Linked DNA regions of Homo sapiens. The protein of the gene in region 1 purifies or fractionates together with the protein of each later gene. This does not show direct contact. Each region holds a gene or a part of one and is shown on either strand. Other genes may lie near its edges.

Region 1 (5,664 bases):
AAAAGGTGGACTTGTGATGGTTAATACTGAGTGTCAACTTGATTGGATTGAAGGATACAAAGTATTGATCCTGGGTGTGTCTGTGAGGGTGTTGCCAAAGGAGATTAACATTTGAGTCAGTGGGCTGGGAAAGGCAGACTCACTCTTAATCTGAGTGGGCACAATCTAATCAGCTGCCACCTCAGCTAGAATATAAGCAGGCAGAAAAATGTAAAAAGAGAGACTGGCCTAACTTCCCAGCCTACATCTTCTCCCATGCCAGATGCTTCTTGCTCTCAAACATTAGACTCCAAGTTCTTCAGTTTTGGAACTCAGACTGGCTCTCCTTGTTCCTCAGCCTGCAGAAGGCCTATTGTGGGACCTCGTGATTGTGTGAGTTAATACTAAATAAACTCCATATATATATATGTGTATATATATATGTATATGTGTATATGTGTGTATATATATACACATATATATACACACATATACACATATGTGTGTGTGTGTGTGTGTGTGTGTGTGTGTGTGTGTATATATCTCCATTCTGTTAGGTCTGTCCCTCTAGAGAACCCTAATATACAAACCAACTTCTAACAGAGGCTCCTTCCATTTGTCAAGCTTTAAACAAAATACTTGATGTTCTATTTCACAGCCACCCTTTAATTATCTTTCACCTAAGCCCTTTCTCTACCAATTAAGGCCTGGTCTTTTTTAGCTGCCGACACATTACCCCAGCAGCCTGTGCATTCACCACCACACCCACAGGAATCTTTGCTTTGATGGGCAGTTTTTCATAAAATTTTATGGAAACAAAATTTTTGCCATTTGGACAAATCAAAACATACCCTGAGATGACAGAAAGGGCATTTCTTATGAAGGCATTTACCAAATAAACAAAGTAACAATGAACCAGGTGTTTTCTCATTAAACAATAGAGGTATAGCACTGCCAATGAGCATTTGGGGGAGGAGAGAATAGTATTTAAAATGGTTGAGGGAAACCACTGCCCCCTTTCCCAAGACTCCCAAGCCTTGCCTTCAAGATCTTAGGTAGTTGGTGCCTTCCCTTTTCATCCGCTCTGGCCCAAGCCTCAGGGACTTTTTGTTGTGCTTGAAGCAAGATTGAGGGGACAAAAAACATGAGTCACACACCTACGTGCTGAGATATTGCGCTGTGCCCCATAAACATATACAATTATTATGTGTCAATTATAAAATTAAAAATTAATTAATCAAAAAATACAAGTCACAGTCTCGCCTTGATTTTTCAATGTTTCACTTTCTCAGTATATGGAATGTATCTCACCAGGCAAGAAGAATAATAAAGACCTGCAGATGCCCCAAATTTTGGTATTTTCATAGATTCCTAATATAGACAGGAACACTCTTGATGCGTTGCCTGGAAACTGTGACAGTGTTTTCTCACAAGAAAATCTCCTGCTGGATAAAATGCAAGAATGCCTTAGTTCAGGATATAATTCTAATCGGGACCACAGAGGACTTAATCATTAACGAAAACTGTAACAAGAGGAAGTGAAAGTGCTTTTTGAAAAATGCAAATGTCTTGACATCTTAATTAGAAGTCAAAAAAGTTAAAATCACACCAGGCCGGCTGTCCACAGCCTTCCTAAAACATAGTAATTGAAATACATTTTTAAACTTGTCAGATGTTTCACCATCAACTAACTTTTTAGCAATACCTCCCTTCATGGCATCCATCAGAAGAAAGCAAAGCAATTAAAAAGTTATTCATTAATCAAAACCCTCTATCAGTTTCCTGGATAAAAAGGAAGGAGCCAACATGGGGGGAAAAAAATCATCAAGCTACAAGAAGACACAGCCAGGCCAAGTGTCCAGGGATAAGTTACCTCTGTTGTGACAGGAAAGGGCAGGTGATCAAATTTCTGCCAAGTCAGACAAAGGCGAGTTTAGCGCACCTTTCAAGCTTCCATTCACCAGGTAGGATTAAGTACCTGGTTGCTCCAGGCATGTCAGGCCCTGAGGGTACACAGGTGAGCAGAGGGATCTAACTTCCTCTCCCCATTGTTCTTCCTCACCAGCCACCATTCGCAACTACAGTGAGAGAAATAACGACCTACTTGCAATTAAGTGTAAATCCTTCAAAGTAGTAGGGATCAGCACATTCTGGTTGCACTGCGAGATCCCCACAGGCTCCCTCCACTGAGAGGGGTTTATAATATAATTCCTCAAGAACTAAGAAAACTGCAGCAGCCACACAGCCAGCTTCTTTCCTAAGGTCCTCTCTGAGCCATTCTATCCTGAAACATAACAGTTCCTCTAGCTTCTCATGCTCAGTGGAATCTGCCATACTCAAGTCTTAGCTTCTTTTTCCATTCAGAAATTTTTTTTCTGCTTTGTTTGGCTTTGCCTGTCCCCTCCCCTCCCCTCCCCTTCCCTCCTCTCGTCTCCCCTCCTTCTCTCCTCTCTTTCTCTCTCTTTCTTTCTTTCTTTCTCTCTTTCTTTCTTTTTCAGAGTTTCGCTCTTATTGCCCAGGCTGGAGTGCAAAGGCATGATTTTGGCTTACCGCAACCTCTGCTTCCTGGGTTCAAGCGATTCTCCTGCCTCAGCCTCCCGAGTAGCTGGGATTACAGGTATGTGCCACCATGCCCCGCTAATTTTGTATTTTTAGTAGAGACAGGGTTTCTCCATGTTGGTCAGTCTGGCCTCGAACTCCTGACCTCAGGTGATCCACCCGCCTTTGCCTCCTAAAGTGCTGGGATTACAGGCGTGAGCCACCGTATCTGGCCTATCTTTTCTACAGACTTTTCATTCCCCCCTCCACCTCTGGCTTCTGAGTTCCTATTGTTTCCTGTGTCTTGAGGCTTCTGTTTCTTTACAACCTCCCTCTTTTCTCTGAGGTTTGTCAGAACTCTAACATTTATGTCTGGGTCTTGCATTCAGACTTGCTGAGGGAGCAATTCGATTGAGTCTGTTAGTCACTACACAATATGCATGATCTTAATTGGATGACGTCCCCATGCCAAGCCATGTCATAAAATGCTGACCAGCCTATAGAAGGCTGCCTTTCACTCCAGGGCTGAGCCCTGGCTCAATCAGCTTGTAGTCATAATGATGGGATCCTATGATTCAAAACATGGCAACCTCTGTCTTAAGAAACCATTTGTGCTTTTTCCTCGTAAATCATCTGTGGGTGAGAGTGACAATAGAAGTATCACAAAGGACCCAAAACAGACATTAAGGTTTGATTTCATGTGAGTCCTACATTTGTTGCTGCTTGAATCTAACATCACTATTTCTTAAAAGGCTTCACCACTGGGCTCCCTCCATACTCACACAAGCACCTCCATCAATCCTGCACAGAGACAGCCTGAGATCCCTTCTTAACACAGTGCTCTCAGTTGCCAATTCCGATTTGGCACACGGGATGAAATTGACTGCTATCTTCTTGTCTATAGGATAAAGTCCAAATTCTGCAGTAAGCCACATTAAGGCTTCAGCCTAAAACTCTGGCTGCAGCCCAAAACTGCAGCTGTATTATCACACCAATTTCTTCATGCAACCTGCGCTGGGTGGGTTCCATTTCTCCTCTCCAGTCCACTCTCTGCCTTTCTCCAGGGAGGCTGACCTTGATGGACTGCTTCAGCCAGCTCCCAAGCTCCCTGACTATGGGCTAAATTTGGTTAAAGTGGGGGCACTGGTAGGATATGAGAAAGAAGGCATATGGAGAATGAGCTTGAGATCTGATCCCCACCCCTCAACCTCTTCCTGCCTGGCTGTGGCTGCCTTTCTTTGCTAAGGGCCTCAGCTCTGGTCAGGGGATTCCCTCTGCCATCTAAGCTCTCAGTGGGTCTGGGGTTACCCGAACCCTATTCCCTGTTCTTGCTTTTTTAGGCTGAAGTTGCTTGCTCCAAGATGCTTCATCCTCCCATGTTGGTTTTCTTCCAACCCTGCCCACGTCTTTGTAAATAGTCCTTCAATTACCCCCACCTTGTAAAATTTTTAGACTTCGAGCGGGGGGCGGGGGGCAAGGTCTCCTCTGTCACCTAGAATGGAGTGCAGTGGCATGATCTTGGCTCACTGCAACCTCTAACTCCCGGGTTCAAGCAATTCTCATGCCTCAGCTTCCCAAGTAGCTGGTACATCAGACGTGTGCCACCACACCTGGCTAATTTTCATATTTTTTGGTAGAGACAGGGTTTCACCATGTTGGCTAGGCTGGTCTTGAATGCCTGACTTCAAGTGATCCGACTTCCTTGGCCTCCCGAAATGCTGCGATTACAACTCCTGACCTCAAGAGAGCCACCATGCCTGGCCTAAATAGACTTTTTTTTTTTTTAAGAAAAGTTTGAAATTTATAAAAAGATTGAAAAGATAATACACAATTCCCATATACTCCCAGCCTTCCTTATACTCTGTAGGCAGGTACCCCTATGATTAACATCTTATGTTGGTATGATACATTTGTTACAATATTGATACATTATTATTAACTGAAGTCCATACTTTACACAGGCTTCCTTATTTTTTACCTAATTTTTTTTTTCTGTTCCATGACCTCATCCAGGATACTACATAACATTTAGTCATGCCTCCTTAGACTCCTCTTGAGTTGTGACAGCTTCTCAGAATTTCCTTGTTTCTGATGACCTTGACAGTTTTGAAGAGTACTGGTCAGATATTTTGCAGAATGACCCTCAACATGTAACAAGAATACATAATTTTAATATGCATCAAGAGAACATGATGTCAACATGACTTACCACTGGTGATGTTGACCTTGATCATCTGGCCAAGGGAGTGTCTGTCAAGTTTCTACACTGTAAAATTACTTTTTTCCCCCTTCTCTTTCTATATCGCACTTTTTGGAAGGAAGTCACTATGTGCAGCCCATGTTTAAGAAATAGGGAGGCTGGCTGTGGTGGCTGATGCCTGCAATCCCAGCACTTTGGGAGGCCAAGGCAGGAGGATCGCTTGAGCCCAGGAGTTCGAGACTAGCCTGGACAACATAGTGAGACCCTGTCTCTATTTTTTTCAAAAAAGAAGAAAAGAAATAGAGAGCTATGCTTCCTTCCCTAAAAGGTGGAATAGAGCCTATGTTCTTTAAGAAAATTAAGGTAAAATATACATAACATGTACCATTTTAACTATTTTTAAGGTTTCGATCACCCTTTTTAAGTAGACCAACTATTTCCTGCTGACACTCTGATGATATCCAAGCTGAACTTGTCATCATTCACCAAAAATGACACGTGTCTTTATGTTCTAGCACATGAGAATCCAGGTAAAGAAAGAGCTTCTCCCATTTTTGCCTGTTTGATTCCTACCCACTCTTTAAGCCCCAACTCAAGACTTCATGGGCTCCCCTGGGAAGGTGAGTTACTCCTGCTATTGTCTTCCTGTCCTTGTATTCATCGTTCTATTCTAGTATTTTTTTTATTTTTTGCACTGCATCCTTTTATTTGGGCTTTCACACAGAAGAAACTAAATTGTATTGATCTTTATGTCTCTAAGTCTGAGGACTGTCCCAGAAACATGGTAGTGATCAATGGATGTTGACTGGAAATGAAGAAAGCAAAGGTGAGATAGAAGCCAAAGTGGTTTATTTTCTCCAAAGATTAAAGAGAGGTTTAACACCTAACATTGGTGAGTGTGTGGGAAAACCTGCCCTCGTAGTGGTTTGCCCTAGCAGACTCTTCCT
Region 2 (4,853 bases), on another chromosome or scaffold:
TGTGATGCTCACAATGATGAAATTGCCTAATGACACATTTCTCAGAATTATCCCTGTCGTTCAGTGATACATGACTATCGTTGCTTAATAAATGGGAGGAATGGTCGTTGTTATAAAGCCTGACTTTCCCCTGAGGGTCATTCATTCACCTCCACTTCTCCCCTAGAGTCTTTAAGGGAACTTGCCAGTGGAGATCTGCCATGATTTGGGGTTATTCTCCACTCAGTTTAGAATGACATTGCAAGATTAATGTTGGAGTCAGATGTTATGGCCAGGAAGATTGTGTATTTGGTTTGTGAAGCTAAACTGTGGTTCAGGAATTGGAAAAGGAACTATCCTTTGAGTTCAAAGTGTACTCAGCTAAAGATACTTGGTATGTGAGGTACAGAAGCCATGCCTGCATTTTCCACTGTCCTGGCCTACATAGTAGGTACACAGTAGATATGTGTTAACTAAATAAACGAGAGAAAGAAATTAAAAATGTGGGCCAGACACGGTGGCTCACACCTTTAATCCCAGCACTTTGGGAGGCCAAGGTGGGCGGATCACCTGAGGTCAGGAGTTTGAGACCAGCCTGACTAACACGGTGAAACCCCGTTTCTGCTAAAAATACAAAAAATTAGCTGGGCGTGGTGGCACACACCTATAATCCCAGCTACTCAGGAGGCTGAGACAGGAGAATCGCTTGAACCTGGGAGGTGGAGGTTGCAGTGAGCTGAGTGAGCTGCACTCCAGCTTGGGCAACAAGAACAAAACTTCGTCTCAAAAAAAAAAAAAAAAAAAAGTGGAGTTGAATACTTTTCTTTCAATTCTGTAGATATCATTTTTTTTTTGTATGTGGTGTTAGATTATAGAAAGGGCAATGAACTAGAAGTCAGGAGACTTTTTTTTTTAATCCTGATGCAGTTCATTTTATGTTTCTGAGCTTTGGTTTCCTCATTTGAAAATGGAGAGAGATTGGACAGCAGCTCTCTAAGCTGAAGGTAACCCTTTCTGTCAAGTAGCATCCCCATCCTTTCTATTACTTAAAGATGCTTTTAGAGTAGACCTGAACTTTTAAGCTGCTTCCTGCTAGGAGAGTTCTCAAGGATGAGGACAGCCTGAAGATTTTGTTAAACTGGATCTGGACTACCTGAGAGTCCACACATCCCTTGTGAGCCCGAGGAGACTATGAACCCACTGAAATTGAGTGTAAAATAGTGTGTAGTACATGTGTATGTGAATGCCCCCATCAATTTTTTGCACAGGGTGTCCTTAGCTTTTATTGGATTCCTTCAGATGTTGTAACCTCTCACAGGGTGATTTGTAGAGAAGCTGGGTCTGTGTGGTCTGAGCCCTGGGGATTTCACATATACTGAGATCTCAGGGGCAGAGGCTGGGGTCTTATCTCCATTGCGTTATTTATTTTCTGTGATTTTTACCCCAGTTTTTTTTTAATTTCCGATACCAGTAATCCCTACAGAACCTCAATGGGCATGCAGTGCTCCATAGTTTACTCCTGTTTTCTCATTCTGCTACTACCACTCCACCCATCAAGTGTTTCTGCTAATGAAAACATTTTTCTTCCTTTCCCCTTTTCTCCTTCTCCTTGATGACTGGTTGCCCTGGGGACTCTGGCAGTTGGCCGTGTTTACATCAGGTAAGATGCATTTCATTTTACTTTGTCTTTCATCAGCTCTGGTTGCACAAGAGAGCCCTAGTCTCAGGAGACTGCTTTCAGAAGCTGCAATCTGCCCTGCTTGTGGGCTCATTTGCTTACTTACCCCCACAGCCTTCTTTACATACCTGTCCACTGACAGACACTTGATGAAATCGGGATGGTCCTAATTCTGCCACAGAGGGCCTTTTTGGATCTCAGTTACTCATTTATAAATTGGATTGGATTGATAGTATGTTAGTTAGGTCCTTTTTATTTTTGAGATTCTGCTTCTATTAAAACAGTGCCTCCTATCATATCAACAGTCCCCCAGCCCTTAAAGGTTATGAAAATATTAGGAAGGGGAAAATTTTTTTGGTGTCAACAAAGAGCTTTTGTGAGGAGAGAAAAGTCTATTTTCCTAGCTTTAGCACCTACTTGGTGAGACAGAGCTGGGCCTGGCATTCACAAGTGGCTGTGAATAATCACAGCCTGCTGAAAGTCTCCCTGGTCGTCAGCAGTAGAGTACCACACTCGTAGGTGGCCTGGGAATGTGGGGGAGGACAGAAGTTCCAGACTGCTAAAGCTTCAGAATCTGGATGGGAGAAAGAAGGTGGGAACAGGGCTGCACATTCTGTCCCCAGCGGGACCTGGTAGTACATATTGACTATGAGTTTATGAAGAACACATAACACATTAAGTTTTGGAGCTATGAACAGTAAGAGTAGTAAATAAAATCATTCAGTGCTGCCATCTCCTCAGCCCTGAAGTCCTAGATTCATGTTTATAGAATGTCTATAAAAACACATTTTGGCCGGGTGTGGTGGCTCACACCTATAATTCCAGCACGTAGGGAGGCCAAGGCAGGTGGATCACTTGAGGCAAGGAGTTTGAGAACAGCCTGGCCAATATGGCAAAACCCCGTCTCTACAAAAAATATAAAAATTAGCTGGGCGTGGTGGTGCACGCCTATAGTCCGAGCTACTAGGGAGGCTGAGGCACGAGAATCGCTTGAATCTGGGAGGCAGAGGTTGCAGTGAGCTGAGATTGCACCACTGCACTCCAGCCTGGGTGACATAGTGAGACTCTGTTTCGAGAAAAAAAACCAAAAAACCGAAAAAAAAATCAAAAACAAGCAAAAAACAAACAAAAACAAACCAAAAACATTTTTTATCACTTGTTTTTTTAAGAAAATTAATTTTTTTTTTTTTTTGAGACAGTCTCATTCTGTCGCCCAGGCTAGAGTGCAATGGTGAGATCTCGGCTCACTGGAACCTCCGCCTCCCGGGTTCAAGCGATTCTTGTGCCTCAGCCTCCTGGGTAGCTGGGATTACAGGTGCACACCACCACACCCGGCTAGTTTTTTTGTCTTTTTAGTAGAGACAACGGAGTTTCACCATGTTCCCCACGCTGGTCTTGAACTGCTGACCTCAGGTGATCCACCCGCCTCAGCTTCCCAAAGTGCTGGGATTACAAGCGTGAGCCACCGCGCCTGGCCTAAACAAAAAATTTTAATGTAACCAGTGAAAGGGCCTGAGAAACCCAAAACGGGATTTTTTTTATATTGAAAGAAATAGGTGAATGCAAAAAATCAATGAAAGTACACAAAAAGCATTAAGCAAATTTAGATAATGAGCAAAACCTATCCTTTAGCATGTGGTAAGTCACCAGAAAATGATCAGCTTATCTCCTGATTCTGATGCCTGGGATACACAGTTGTTGGGAAAATGCTATAAAAATGAGAAATTGGCCGGGCGCGGTGGCTCATGCCTGTGATCCCAGCACTTTGGCAGACCAAGGGAGGAAGATCACGAGGTCAGGAGTTTGAGACCAGCCTGGCCAACATGGTGAAACCCTGTCTCTACTAAAAATACAAAAATTAGCTGGGCGCAGTGGTGGGCGCCTGTAATCCCAGCTACTTGGAAGGCTGAGACAGGAGAATTGCTTGAACCCAGGAGGCAGGGGTTGCAGTGACCTGAGATCATGCCACTACACTCCAGCCTGGGTGACAGAGCAAGACTCTGTCTGGGGAAAAAAAAATGAGAAATCACAGAAAGAAGAATATGACTGACAGGAAAATACAGTTGCTCCTACTGGGAAGGTGGGGATTTAAAGTTTGCTGTACTTACACCAGCAGCCTAAATTGAGGCTGGGCATGTCAGACTTGACAGCCCCAGACTTGCAGTTTCCCTCCCCCTGTGTTGCTAGGAGGCCCTAGAGAGAAACAAAGCATGAAGAAGCCTAATTGTGATGATTTTTTTTCTTTTTTTTGAGACAGAGTCTTGCTCTGTTGCCCAGGCTGGAATGCAGTGGTGCAATCTCGGCTCACTGCAACCTCCGCCTCCCGGGTTCAAGCGATTCTCCTCCCTCAGCCTCCCGAGTAGCTGGAACTACAGGCATGCGCCACCATGTCTGGCTAATTTTTGTATTTTTAGTAGAGACGGGGTTTCACCTTGTTGGCCAGGCTTCTCTTGAACTCCTGACCTCAGGTGATCCACCCACCTCCGCCTCCCAAAGCGCTGGGATTACAGGCATGAGCACCGCACCCGGCCAATTATGATGATATTTAAAGGCAATTTTGATTTTACCACTGGTAGGTATTTGCTGAATGGTAGGAGAAGGAATGGGAGTCAGGTTCCTTGAGATGTTCCCTGCTCATGCTGGTGTTTCCCAGTTTGAGGCCTCTGGCCTGTGTTGTTCTGGTGGCTCTGGCTGATCACTCTGGTGGGTCTTGGGCCATCCACATGCATTTTTCTCTCCTGTTTGCAGTGGTTGGAGACCAGACCTAACAGACAGGTGTGTCCTGTTTGCAAAGCTGGCATCAGCCGAGACAAGGTCATCCCCCTCTATGGAAGGGGCAGCACTGGGCAACAGGACCCCAGGTGAGGACTCAGGATGCCTCTCCCAACCACTTCTCCCCTTGGATGTGAATTCACTCCCATTCAGCATCCCCTAACCCCACCCTTTACTTAGTACTAGATGATCTCTTGGTTTCGAAGCAGTCTCATCCAGATGAGAGTCAGCTAGGAGGGGAGGGAAGAGAGGGGATCCAAGTTGCCACTTGCTAGGACCCAGCAGTGAACAGACATCACAATCACAAGTGTGCAGAGCCCTGTGAAAGAGCATTTCTGCAACCTGGGAAGCAGGATATGTAGCAGGAGAGGCTCCAGGGAGCAGGGTTGCTGCATCAGTGATGTATAAAGCATGGCGGGAGGGG

The links.
Region 2: the proteins of SGPP2 (region 1) and RNF185 purify together in Homo sapiens (affinity purification with mass spectrometry; one large-scale study listed by BioGRID and IntAct). This does not show direct contact.

What each region holds. Positions count from the first base shown.
Region 1 is NC_000002.12:222,429,828-222,435,491, reverse strand, and holds part of SGPP2 (sphingosine-1-phosphate phosphatase 2), read right to left. Parts: intron 1-5,664. UniProt on the Homo sapiens protein: Has specific phosphohydrolase activity towards sphingoid base 1-phosphates. Has high phosphohydrolase activity against dihydrosphingosine-1-phosphate and sphingosine-1-phosphate (S1P) in vitro.
Region 2 is NC_000022.11:31,191,064-31,195,916, forward strand, and holds part of RNF185 (E3 ubiquitin-protein ligase RNF185), read left to right. Parts: intron 1-1,620; coding exon 1,621-1,639; intron 1,640-4,405; coding exon 4,406-4,518; intron 4,519-4,853. UniProt on the Homo sapiens protein: E3 ubiquitin-protein ligase that regulates selective mitochondrial autophagy by mediating 'Lys-63'-linked polyubiquitination of BNIP1.